Regions from separate parts of the Homo sapiens genome. Here region 1 is linked to region 2. A link means that fine-mapping ties the variant in region 2 to the expression of a gene that starts in the linked region. Tissue or cell type: whole blood. Region 2 holds a variant in brackets; the other region holds the start of a gene. All regions are shown on one strand. Distances are between the middles of the regions.

Region 1 (5,806 bases), 500 kb before region 2:
GACGCCCAGCAGAGGCTCTCACTTGCCAACCCAGACCCCTCTTTTGAGGATCTGGGTCATAACCTTCCCTGCTACATTCCCATTTAATCTCATCTTCACACCTGGCCCCTATTCCAAGAGCCTCTGGACCCTCTTACCGTGACGAAGACAACATTGTTGGGGAAGACTGATGTGTCCGCTCCATCCAAGGGCACTTGGGGGGCAGCGATGGGACCCCGGCTGGCAGTCAGCGAGGCTGGGAAGCAGCTCCTCTTTCGAACGGTGGTGGTCCCTTCCTCACCCTCTGCCCCCGGGTCCCCTTCCAAAGTCTGGGGTGGGAGACGCAGCTCCTCGGAAAGGTAGTGTCGGATGTTTTGGCGGGCAGAATGGATGAGCCGGGAATCGATATCCAGGCCCACCATGCGGGACGGGCCCCACTTGCAGGCAATGCTCAGGGTCAGATGGCCCACATTGCAGCCCAGATCTAGGACGTCCCGGCCCCGAAACCACTCAGGCTTCAACACCCGAAGGCGCCCATCCTCACAGGAAGGATTGCGGTACCCATAGTATTTGCAATAATTCCCATACTGGAACTTGCGCTGTTGCTTTTTGAAGCCTGCTGCAGGCAGTGGGTGGTGGTGGTGGTGGCGGCCTCCCCAACTCCCTCGGCCCTTTTCCTTGGAACCCTGGCCTCCACCCCTAGCCCCTGCCTCCGACTTGCTGGAAGTCCTGCGACGTTTGCGATGTCGGGAGGAGGAAGATGGGGGTGCAGAGATAACTGAGGCAGCTGGAGGGGCTGATAGGGAGCCTGAGGGACCCTGCAGAGCAGATGGAAGGGGAGACACCACTTCATCCCTGCAGTTGATGGCTGTGTTGAGTTCATAGGGTTGGGGGGCATCCCGGTTCTGGCCCCTGTGCCGCGGCTGCTGTGAGGCGCCCTCCCCGTGGAGTAAGGGGGTGAGAGGGGCTGTGGGCGGCACGGGGTGACTCTCACTCCCTCCGGCTGCCTGCTGCTGCTGGTGGTGCTGTCCCCGGTGTCTATGCCGCTTCCGACCAGTCTTGAGTGGCGAAGCAAGAACTACATGGCCCTCATCAGTGCAAGTATTGAGACTGAGCGGGTCAGTAATATCTTTGGGGATGAGGATCTCCACCGGATCTCGCCCTTTGGCCGGAAGGGGGGATGACTTAGGGGTCTCCGCGTTGAGAGTGCGGCTCACTTCCTCATCCAGGAGGCTATTCAGGTTCAGGGGATCAAAGATATTGCCCCCCAGGAGGAAGTTGGAGGGTAACACAGAGTCACAGTCCGAATTCACCCGCCTGCGCCTCTTGAAGGCCGGATGTTTGAAGCCTCCCCCGCCTCCCCCTACATTACAGCTATTTCTCCTCTTGCCCCCGCCCCCCCCAGGTGGCCGGTGGGGCTGATAGCCATTGCGGGGTCGAGGAGGAGCAGGGGGACCCAGCTCTGTCCCGCCCCCTCCCCGGCGCTCCTCCCCCACGTCCGGGGGAGCGGCTCGCCCCGGGGGATCCGACAGGCGGGCCTCCCCATGCGACTGCGCCTGGGGGCCGCCCCCTCGGTGCTGCTGCGCCTGGGGACCACTGGAGGAGGTGGCCGCGGCCCCGGGGCTTTCCCGACCGACCGCAGCGGCTGGGGACCCCGCAGATGGCGCGCAACGACCCGGACCACGCTCCGTCCCGCCGCGGAGCTCCCCAGAGGCGGCCTCTTGGTGCGGTGGCACCGTGGGGCCGCCCCCTCCGCCCGACTCATCTTTGAGCGGCGGCGGCGGGGCCGGCACCAGAAACGGCTCCTTCTCCGCCGCCATCTCGATCATTTCCTCCCCTTATTCCGTGCCAGTCGGGGTAACGAGGGGGATCAGGGGGCCTAACCCCCCCTGCCTGGACCCTGCTCCCTTCCCCCCTTTCCCGAGTGCGCGCGCAGCTCTGCTCTTCACGCCTAGTCTCGCGCCCAAGCGCCTCCCCGCCAAGTGCGCCCTACTAGCCCGCGAGACCAAAACAAGAGGCCCGCGAGACCCGAACTACTCGAGGACTCAACCGCGCGTGCGCCGACCCCTTTCTCCTCCGCCACTACCACCCGGCCGCGAGCGCGCACGGTGAGCGCGCGTTCCCTTCGCCCGGGAACCACGCATGCGCACTCCGCCACCACCCTGGTTGCGCGCGCATCAGACTACGAACCAACTTAACGGCTCTGGGAGTTTAAATATAACCCCCCCACAGCCCCCGCAAAAGCCCACCACCCCAAACTGACACCCTACTTCCCTGCGCAGCTATGTCCGGCCCTACTGATCTCCTTTGTCTCTGCCGCGCGATCCCACCCACCGTAGGCGGGGGACGGGAGCTGGTGTGAAAAGGTCTCCTTGACACCCGACCCTTGTTCCTGAGGAATGAGTCTCAGCGGTCTCCGCCCGGCTCTAAATCCAACAACCTCCCCACCCCGCCTCCTTCCTCCCCCCTAGTGGGCAGCGCCTGCGCACACCCTTTTGGGCTTGCGCGGGTAGAGGCAGCACGTGCTGAAACTGGCGCCCCGCCCCCCGTCTTAGGGGTTGGGCCTGTGACGTCGCTTCCTTAAGTTTGGTAAACGCAGCGTGCGTCAGCGCGATCCGGAGGGGCGGGGCTTCCTGACGAAGGGCGGGGCTCATGAATTATTCATGAGCTGTTGGTAGCAAACCTCCCCCCCTCTGCCCACCTTCTTAGAAGCGCTTCCGAGGGAGCGGAGGGGAGACCCTACAAAGCCAAGGAAGGGCGGGAGTGGAACTGGGCTCAGTAAAACGCGATAGGTCATTATAACTCACCCCCCTTGAAAATATTCTCTGCTGAATTGGGGAAAAATAAAAAGCACTAAAACAGCCGATGTTGTCCAACTTCCTCTTCCCCCGAAACGGCTGAGTCGTTCTCTGGCTCCTCTACCTTCCCCCAATCGCAATCACCTGGAGACGCCACACCACGCCTTCCTCTCCGCCTCAACACCCACGACCCGAACCCCAACGCATCCGCCCACTCCCGACGCCCGCTCACTGGCCCGTCAGTTCGCGGGCCTCTCAACACCCACCGCGGCGCCACGCCGACTTATATACCAGCGAGTGTGGGCGGGGACGGGGGTTCGGTCCGCGCTGGGCCCCCCCAGCTTCTGCCAATGAGGAAGAAGCGAGTCTACGCCGTTTTCCCGGGGAGATGCGCCGCCCGGTCTCCCTGCCAGCGGAGTGCTGGGCCGAGGACAGGGCGGCAGGGGTGACAGTGGGGTCCAGGAGAGTCTCAAAATCCTAAGGTGAGGGCGTGAAGGAGACCAGCAGGAAGAGGAGGAATTAGAGAACGGAAAGAGGGAGGAAAAGGCAGTCTGAAACAGAAAAGTTAGTAGATGTGCTTCAGGAACAATCAGGCGCCGCGGCCGCCGCCTAAAAATATGTGACACCAAAGAGGATTCTGGGATTTGTAGTTTTCCCGGGACGTTCGGGTGGAAGATGGCGGATTTACCTCAGCTGCGGAAACGCAGACGCTGTTTCCAGTTGCGCATGCGCCTCGGCCCCGCGAGCGCACCGCCCTCGGGTGGAGCTAGTGCTCAGGGCGTCCTCGTGCCTTTTCTTGGTGGCGGGAAACCTGGGTTGAGGTGTGAGGGGCTTGCGGAGTCGCTGCGGCAGCTGGTTCCGCCCATCGCCTTTAGGTCCTCCTTGCTCCTGAAGGTAGCCAGCTAGTTTCTGGTTGTAGGTGAAGGTGCTAGGCGCTGCCAGTCCTGGCACCCGTTGCCTGAGGAGAAACTTTCTCAGGGCGACAACCAGCCCTTCGCCCTTTTTCCTCAGAATCTGTCGCCCCCAAGAAACAGACAAAAAAAAAATAGCCCAGTCTCCTGGCGGGCACCAACGATATGAGTGAGAATAAGGATCACGGGGCCTCGGCAGGAGTGGGGGTGGAGGGGAGATTCCCTCATGGTGGGAGGAAGGAAGGGAGGGGACGGGGAAGAGAGAGGGGGACGTGTGGCTCAGGGACACCGACTTGAACCGCTATCCCTGAGAGAGAATAAGGGGTGAGGGAAGAGAGGAAAAATGGGAGCGCCCCACAAATGGGAAGAACTTCTCTGCAAAACTTCTTCCCTTTGGATTGCAGGTGGATTTGGAATTGGGGCTTTTTTTTTTTTTTTTTTAAAGACTGTCTCGCTCTGTCGCCCAGGCTGGAGTGCAGTGGCGCAGTCTCGGCTCACTGCAACCCCCACCTCCTGGGTTCAAGCGATTCCCCTGCCTCAGCCTCCCGAGGAGCTGGGACTACAGGCGCCCGCCACTGTGCCCGGCTAATTTTGTATTTTTAGTAGAGACGGGGTTTCTCCATGTTGGCCAGGCTGGTCTCGAACTCCTGACCTTAGGTGATCCGCCCACCTTGGCCTCCCAAAATGCTGGGATTACAGGCACGCGCCACCGTGCTCGGCTGATTTTTTTGTATTTTTAGTAGAGACGGGGTTTCACCGTATTGGCCAGGCTGGTCCCGAACTCCTGACTTAAGGTGATCCACCCGCCTCTTCTTTCTTGTTAAAAGTTTTAAATCGGGCTTGCTGAGCTTGTGCACAAACACGAAGGAAGAAAGCAAGGGAGGGAAGGGGGAGGAAGGAAGGAGGGAGGGAAGGGGGAGGAAGGAAGGAGGGAGGGAAGGGGGAGGAAGGAAGGAGGGAGGGAAGGAGAAGAGAGAGAGGGAGGGAGGAAAGGGAGGAGGGAGGGAGGAGGGGGAGGAAAGGGGAGGGAGGGAAGGAGAAGAGAGAGAGGGAGGGAAGGAGAAGAGAGAGGGAGGGAAGGATAAGAGAGGGAGGGAGGAAAGGGGAGGGAGGGAGGAGGGGGAGGAAACGGGAGGGAGGGAAGGAGAAGAGAGGGAGGGAGGAAAGGGGGAAGGGAGGAGGGGGAGGAAAGGGGAGGGAGGAGGGGGAGGGAGAAGGGAGGGAGGGAGAGGAAGGAAGAAGGAGGGGAAGCAGGGAAGGGAGGAGGGGGAGGGGGGTAGGAAGGAGAGGGGGAGGAAAGGGAAGGAGGAGGGGGAGAAAGGAGAGGGGGAGGAGGGAGGGAAGAGGGAGAGAGAAAGGGAGGAGGGCAAGGAAGGAGGGGGAGGGAGAGAAGGAGGGGGAGGAAGGGATGGAGGGACAAAGGGAGACAGAAGGAGGGAAGAAGGAAGAGAGGGAGGGAAGAGGGAGGAAGGAGTAAAGGAGGGAGAGAGGGAGGGAGAAAAAGTGAGAGGGAGGGAGGAAACTGCTATTAGTTAATTGAGGCATGAAAATAAGCAGGAGTCCACATACTGTTATTAATGCAAAAAGGAAGATCAGACTCTGGCTTAAAAAAGATTTGAAATATACTTTTTTTTTTTTTTTTTTTTGAGACAGAGTCTCACTCATTTTGCCCAGGCTGGAGTGCAGTAGCACGGTCTTGGCTCACTGCAACCTCCACCTCCTGGGTTCAAGTGATTCTCCTGCTTCAGCCTCCCAAGTAGCTGAGATTACAGGCGCCTGCCACCACGCTGGCTAATTTTTGTATTTTAGTAGAGATGGGGCTTCACCATGTTGGTCAGGCTGGTCTTGAACTCCTGACCTTAGGTGATCCACCTGCCTTGGCCTCCCAAAGTGCTGGAATTACAGGCGTGAGCCACTGCGCCCGGCTGAAATATACTCTTTAAATACCGCTTTTTTGAGGCTCAGGGAGTCTGGGTTAGAGGACAATGCTAAAGGGTTTACTTCTCTTAGACCAAGGATTTGAGGAACAATATAAGGAAGGGAATGATTGGATGGTTAGGAAGAGGAAATTTGGGAACACATTCTGAATGGTGTGTGGGGAGAGAGAATTACTGTTTA
Region 2 (7,856 bases):
AAAATCTGAATTTCTATCTAGTCAGTTCTGGCTCTGGCCCCAAATCCTATAGTATGTAATTCTGGTAAATTCTGCTGGGTTACCTTCCAAATGTTCTCTTCTTCCTCAGCTTGTAAGGCCTAAGAGCATCAGACTAAAGCAAGCCTCGATGCTTGCTCTGTTCATTTCATCCATCACATCTAGCCCCATAACCTAACTACCTCTCAACTTTACCACTGTGATGGGAGAAGAGGACATCCAGACACACCTGTGATCATCCAAGGGCATGGAGGAAGAGAAAAGAAGACCGCAAGAGAATGCACATTCCCTCTCAGCATCAGCACTAATTTGCTTAAGATGATGCTGTAGGAGCACCAGGCCTGGCAGCCATCAGCTGGGGAAGCAATACCTTTCAAAGGAAAATTAACAAAACATCCCAGTCTACTCTCTTACGTTCAGCCTTTGGGAAAGAGAGACGGAGGGAAGGAGGGAAAGAGAGAGATGAAGATGTATCCTGGTCTCTCCAACCTGAGAGTTCCTCTCCACTCCAGCAGTACAGAAGGGGAGGGCAGAAGAGAGAGCCACACCACACACACTCACTGTTATTATTTTACATAGATGATTTCATTAAGTAGTAAAGAGGTGCAATCAGAGTCTTGGTATTTAATCAGTCAGATACTTGGAGAGGAATAAAAAAGCTTGCCTTCAGTGATCCTTGGATTAGGAGTGACAAGGTGGACTGGAGCTCCCTCTGAAGGACAGTGAACAACACTGATCTCTTGTCCTCTGCTCCAAAACAGGATGTGTGGCAGGTTCCTGCGGCGGCTGCTGGCGGAGGAGAGCCGGCGCTCCACCCCCGTGGGGCGCCTCTTGCTTCCCGTGCTCCTGGGATTCCGCCTTGTGCTGCTGGCTGCCAGTGGGCCTGGAGTCTATGGTGATGAGCAGAGTGAATTCGTGTGTCACACCCAGCAGCCGGGCTGCAAGGCTGCCTGCTTCGATGCCTTCCACCCCCTCTCCCCGCTGCGTTTCTGGGTCTTCCAGGTCATCTTGGTGGCTGTACCCAGCGCCCTCTATATGGGTTTCACTCTGTATCACGTGATCTGGCACTGGGAATTATCAGGAAAGGGGAAGGAGGAGGAGACCCTGATCCAGGGACGGGAGGGCAACACAGATGTCCCAGGGGCTGGAAGCCTCAGGCTGCTCTGGGCTTATGTGGCTCAGCTGGGGGCTCGGCTTGTCCTGGAGGGGGCAGCCCTGGGGTTGCAGTACCACCTGTATGGGTTCCAGATGCCCAGCTCCTTTGCATGTCGCCGAGAACCTTGCCTTGGTAGTATAACCTGCAATCTGTCCCGCCCCTCTGAGAAGACCATTTTCCTAAAGACCATGTTTGGAGTCAGCGGTTTCTGTCTCTTGTTTACTTTTTTGGAGCTTGTGCTTCTGGGTTTGGGGAGATGGTGGAGGACCTGGAAGCACAAATCTTCCTCTTCTAAATACTTCCTAACTTCAGAGAGCACCAGAAGACACAAGAAAGCAACCGATAGCCTCCCAGTGGTGGAAACCAAAGAGCAATTTCAAGAAGCAGGTGAGAAGGACACGCTCTCTTCCTGTCACTGATGTTTGTGTCCTGATGATCTCCTCCCGGGGCAGGTCCCTCACCTTTCTGGGAAGTACAACTTCTGCATGTTACAAAGTAGGTAACCAGGTTCTAGGCAGATGTGTTCTGACCGCCACTCCCAACCCTTTTCTTTGTTCTCTCTTGCTCTCAAAATCTATCCCAATGTCCATCCCCATCAACTTGATGGTTCCTTCCAGCGAACAAGGACAAGAGTGCTAGTCCGTTGTCCCTCCTGAACTTCCATTTAGGTCTCTCTCCACTTAGGAAAAATCTCAGCTTCTTCTTGATTCTCTACTTTGCAGAGTTATAAAGACACCTGACTTGCCTGAAGGAAACTCTGTGATTGAATCTTCTTTCCAACATCCAGTGAGTGGGGATTCATGTCTGTGACAAATTAGAGGCTGTTGAAGGATCTCTAAGGGCCCCTTGGGCCATGTAGTCTAAAGCATTTCCTGACTGTGCCTTTTCACTGGAATTTTCTGGTGTCAGCATCACAATTTTTATGGGCTTGGTTCAAGAGTCAGCCGGGAGAAGCCTCCCTAAACTGTGTCTCTCCCCTGTCCTGCTCAATAAATATTGATGACTGCTGTTGGCATTCCTGTTGCTGAAGATAATGCCCCTTCCTGTCTCACTGGCTTCATTTACCTCTTTTCTGTTTTTCCACATTCTCTGCTCCCCTTATCATCAAAGTTTTGTAAATGAATGCCCCTCAGACCTGCAGCACATGTCATAAGCCAGAAACTCTGGGCTTCAAGCATATATAAGTCAGTGTCCTCTAATATCTATAGATTTATCCAAATACCCGGCCATATCCTTAAGGAAAATTACTGTGAATTCAGGGGCTTAGGCCCCCTTGATCACTGATAGCTCTGATTTCTGCTCAATTCTCATTCTTCATTTCTGCAGTTCTCGTTGCAGCTTGTTACAATTGTCTCCAGAACTGCAGCAACTCATGCTGGACCAAGTTCCTACTCTTTAATTTCATAACCCTCAATACCACACAGAAAAAGCAGTAGAGTTCTACTGCTGATATGCTGATTTGGGAGTAACAGCAAGGGAGGCTGACATCACAGTGTGATTCGGCGGGTAACTGCAATCTGAATATCAGTCTTCTCGAGTCTCTTAGTCATTTCTGTTGGACAGTGTTGTTCTATCCCTTTTTTTTTTTAACAGAACGCTGCCCTCTTTTCTTAGTTTTCTCTTGCCCTGAAATTCTCAACAAAGGCAGTTATCTATTTTTTTTTCTCTTTCTGAATCCCAAATTATCCCCAAGTAAGTTAGGGGATCCCAAGGGATGCTTTGGCAATAGCTAGGAAATTTTTTTTTTCTTCCTGCTACACAAGTGCTTCATAAGAATCCCTCATCCACTGTAGCCAGAGCCCAGCCAAAGTGACCAAGGAAAAACGCAAATAGCATCATTTGGAATTCTTCCTTATACCACCCCCTTTTAAAACAGCTTTATTGAGATATAATTCATACACCATATAATTTATCCACTTAAAGTGAGGCAGGAGAATAGGTTCTGGAGGAAGGGAACCTAAGGCTGTTTCACGCCAACTTCCTAGGACTAAATTGAAAGGAAAACTCTAACTTTCCTTGCCTAAGTAACACAAGGACCAGAGGCTACTCCCTTTGCAACACCCCCACCTTTTCTGTGCAGCAGATGGGAAATTGCCTGTCCCCAACAAATCAGGCTGTTTGCAGATGAGTCTTCCTTTGCAACTTCGTAACTTCTTCCTAGCCTCTGATTGGTTGCTTTCTGCAAAGCATGAACTGGCCAAAGGGAAACTTCTAGTGGGTACTGGGACCCAAGAAGATTGTGTATCCGTGCCCTTGAACCGCTGCTCGGATTGCTCCCACACTGTGGCGTGTACTTTGGTTTTCAATAAATCCCTGCTTTCGTTCTTTTGTTGCTTCATCCTTTCTTTGCTTTGCTAGGAGTTTTGTCCAATTCCTTGTTCAAAACGCCAAGAACCTGGACAACTTGCAGTCACTATCCTCTACCAGTGACAAAAGTATACAATTAAATAGCCTTTAGTATATTCAGAGTTGTATATCCATCAACACTACCAATTTAATAACATTTTCATCAACTTAAAAAAACCCTACCCCCTCATGTTACTCTCAAACTCTTATTAGCACCCAAAACATGCAACCATCATATGGTTTTGTCTCTATTGGTTTTCCTACTCTTTCATACAAATGGAATCATGCAATATGTGGTCTTTCATGTCTGGCTTCTTTCACTGAGCATAACTTGAGGTTCATTCATGTTGTGGCATGTTTCAGTATTACATTCCTTTATATGGTTGAGTGTTATTCCACTGTTAGGATATACCACATTTTGTTTAAGGAGATACCACATTTTGTTTATACATTCTTCAGTTTCAGGACATTTGGGTTGTTTCCATTTTTTGGCTCTTATGACCACTGTTGCTATGAACATATGTGTACCACTTTTTTTTTTTTTTTTGGGATGGAGTCTCACTCTGTCACCCAGACTGGAGTGCAGTGGTGTGATCTTGGCTTATTGCAACCTCCACTTCCTGGGTTCAAGCGATTCTCCTGCTTCAGCGTCCTGAGTACCTGGGACTACAGGTGCGCACCACCACACCCAGCTAATTTTTGTATTTTTT[G/TG]TAGAGACAGGGTTTTGCCATGTTGGCCAGGCTGGTCTCAAACTCCTGACCTCAGGTTATCTGCCTGCCTCAGCTTCCCAAAGTGCTGGAACAACAGTCCTGAGCCACCACACCTGGCCCCAGTTTTAGTGTTGTGTAAACACATGTTGTCAGTTCTCTTGCATAAATAACCAGGAATAGAATGTCTGGGTCATAAGGAAACTCCACGTTTCAACTTTTGAGGAACTGCCAAACTCTTTTCCACAGCAGCTGCACTATTTTTACATTCCTACCAGCAATGTGGGAATACTTTTTATTTATCTATTAAATTCTAGCCATCCTAGTGGGTGTGAAGTGGTATCTCATTGTAGTTTTGATTTGCACTTGCCTAATGGCTAATTACATTGAACATTTTCCATGTGCTTAGTGGTTATTTGTATATCTTCTTTGGAGAAATGTCTATTCAAATCCTTTTCCCATTTATAAATAGAGTTTTTTGTATTTTTGTTGTTGCATTGTAAGAGCTCTTTATATATTGTGGGTATTAGATACTTATTGTATGTATGATTTCCAAATATCTTCTCCCATTCTATGATTGTCTTTCACTTTCTTGATAGTGATGCACAAAAGTTTTAAATTTTAATGAAGTCTAACATCCAATTTTTTCTTTTGTTGCTTATGATTTTTGTGTATTACCTAAGAAACTATTGCCTAATTCACAGCCATAAAGATTAATGCCTATGTTTCCATAAGAGTTGTATAGTTTCAGCTCTTACATTTAGGTCTCTGGTTGGTTTTGAGTTAATTTTTGTGTATGGTGTAAGATAAATGTCAAACTTTATCTTTTGCATGTGGATATTCAATTGTCTCAGCACTATTTCTTTTTTAAAAACTTTTTTTATTTAAATGGGTACATAGTAGGTTATATATTTATGGGGTATACAAGGTATTTTGATACAGGTATGCAATGTGTAATAGTCACATCAGGGTAAATGGGGTATTTATCACCTCAAGCCTTCAGCCTTTGTTATAAATAATCCAATTATACTAGTTATTTTATAATGTACAATTATTTTTGACTGTAATCACCCTGTTGTGCTATCAACTACTAATTCTTATTCATTCTATTTTTTGTACCCATTAACCATCTCCACTTTCCCCCTACTACCCTTCCCATCCTTGGTAATCATCAGAGAAGATATACAGATAATAAGAAAGCATATGAAAAGATGTTTAACATCATTTATCATTAGAGAAATGAGAATGATTGACTTTAGGGTTAGGGAAGAGAAATACAAGATAAGACTGGAGGATTTTGTAGCGGTAGAAAGTAAGAAAGTGCTACTCCCTCTTCCCCACAAAATGACAGGAGTTTGTCAAAGGGACACAGATGTCAACTGAAAAAGTTCCCAATGGCCAACACAGGAATAATCTGAGCAGTAAAATAAACAACATAGTATTGGATTATACCCAAAGTATAAAATAGGAATCCATGAATTCATAATATAAATAATTGAATAAATAGGAGATAACTGACAAATTTCTCATGCAGAAGAATGTAGATACTCCACCGCAAGGAGGGGAAATATAACTACTCACTTTTTTTTCTTTTGAGATGGAATTTTGCTCATCGCCCAGGCTGGAGTGCAATGGCAGGATCACTGCAATCTCTGCCTCCCAGGTTCAAGCAGTTCTCCTGCCTCAGCCTCCTGAATAGCTGGGATTACAGGCGTGCACCACCATGCCTGGCTAATTTTTGTATTTTTAGCAGAGACGGGGTTTCACCATGTCGGCCAAGCTGGTCTCGAACTCCTGACCTCAGGTGATCCACCCACTCAGCCTCCCAAAGTGCTGGGATTACAGGCGTGAGCCACCGTGCCCACCAACTACTCCCTTTTTAGGCATGGGCTGCACATAGTGACTTCCCACTAAACAGTAAAATAGGGGGAGGGGAAAGAATAACTTTACAGGGAGAAACCCATCAAATACTACCTCAGCCGGGTGATCAAGGTTAACATCAACAGTGATGAGCAATGTTGACAGCATGTGCCCCGGATATGATGTGATGACGGTTTTTGTATTTTCCCGTTCTAAAATTTCCATGGGGCTATTCTTTGTATTTTCTATTACTTCTCTGAGACTTTTAAACTTTCCATTTGAATAGCAGCTTTATAGTCTTGATAATTCCAACATGTGTGGCAACTTACATTCTGCATCTGTTACATTTTTTCCCAACGTGAGTTGAGATTTTCCTGGTTCTTCACCTGCCAATTAATATCGATTGTATCCTGGACATTTTGAATGTCATTAGGATGCTCTGGGTCTTGGTTAAATTTGGTGGAGGATGTTGATATTTATGTTTTAAAGGGTAATTAACCCATTTGGGTTCAAGTCATAAGTTTTGACCAGCCTTCTGAGGGTTGTGGTTCCAATGTCAGTTCAGTTTTCAAAGCCTTTGTAGTACTCTTCTGATAGGTCCCACATGGGTGGCACCTAAAGTGTAACCCAGGGTCCTTGGGTTTTGGGTACGCACTGTGAAAAAGTTACACACTTGTAACTGTTACATCTTGAATTTTTGTTTTAAAAAGTTCCAGGAAGAAGCTTAGCCCAGGAAAAACAAAGACCAGTTGGACCCAGAGATGCCTGAGTTGGAGATGAACTTTGGCCAACTTTCCTCATCACCATACTTAAAATCCTGTCCAAGGAGGAGCTTATTCACCATTTTCTATACATGTGACATATGTAGCAGCATAACCGACAACTGGGACTGCGCTGCCTTGACTCCACCTCTACATACAATGACTCAGCTAACCAGACTAATAAAAGCCATGTTTGCACCATTGCTCAGGGAGGCATTGCTTTGGGGAATTATTCCCAGTGTCCTCCTTACTTATCGCAAGTAATAAAATCCCCCTGGGAAATCCTCCTTGGTTGTGGTCATTGGACTGTCCCCTGCCAAGCAATTTAACCCATTCATTGTGTGGGTAACAAAAGGCCAGTCTGGGACATGAGATCTGGGTCTACAGTTTAGTTCTCAAAGTCTTTGGCATGCAATTTAGGACCAGATTCATCATACCAAAAAAGGGAGATAGTCTCAACAGAATTCTCAAATTACTTAAATATCAGAGGCAGTGTAGAGAAGGAGTACTTGGTGGTATGGTAGGTTTTCTGACAGGAAACAAAAGATGGAGGTAAAATGGAACCAGTACTTTCTTTCTGAGAATACTGACTGCACCAACCATAACATGAAGCGAAGGCTATATCTCCCTGAAGTAAGAAATGTAATAAAGGAAACTTTCAGAAATAATAGATCATCTGGAGATGTTGGGCAGTGTATTTGGTAAGTTATAACTACCAGGTATCAATACAATAAGCTTAGTTTGAATACAATAAGCTTAGTTTCTTTTTAAAGAATTTATCCTGCTCTGTGTTCTCTGAGCTCCTTGGATTGGTTTGGTGTCTTACAAATTTTGGAAATTCTCAGCCATTATTTCTTGATTTTTTTTTTTTTTTTGAGATAGAGTCTTGCTCTGTCGCCCAGGCTGGAGTGCAGTGGTGTGATCTCAGCTCACTGCAAGCTCCGCCTCCCGGGTTCACGCAATTCTCTTACCTCAGCCTCCCGAGTAGCTGGGACGACAGGTGCCTGC

What was found. PIP is the estimated chance that this variant, and not a neighbour inherited with it, causes the effect.
Region 1: ZCWPW1 starts here. The variant in region 2 is fine-mapped to the expression of ZCWPW1 in whole blood (INTERVAL, PIP above 0.99).

What each region holds. Positions count from the first base shown.
Region 1 is chr7:100,426,021-100,431,826 of GRCh38, reverse strand. ZCWPW1 (zinc finger CW-type and PWWP domain containing 1) reads left to right here and starts at 3,124. Exons shown (of 18, transcript NM_001386010.1): 1 at 3,124-3,259. MEPCE (methylphosphate capping enzyme) reads right to left here and starts at 1,996. Exons shown (of 4, transcript NM_019606.6): 1 at 138-1,996. The coding sequence starts at 1,808. RefSeq lists enhancers at 1,097-1,176, 2,047-2,186, 3,207-3,436 and silencers at 1,307-1,776, 3,597-3,646.
Region 2 is chr7:99,922,545-99,930,400 of GRCh38, reverse strand. It overlaps GJC3 (gap junction protein gamma 3), which reads left to right and starts at 781. Exons shown (of 2, transcript NM_181538.3): 1 at 781-1,561; 2 at 6,798-7,135. The coding sequence starts at 781. The coding sequence ends at 6,856. LOC101927610 (a long non-coding RNA gene) reads right to left here. Exons shown (of 2, transcript XR_001745296.3): 2 at 5,087-7,856. RefSeq lists enhancers at 398-982, 983-1,568. The variant G/TG (reference allele first, on the strand shown) is at 4,231.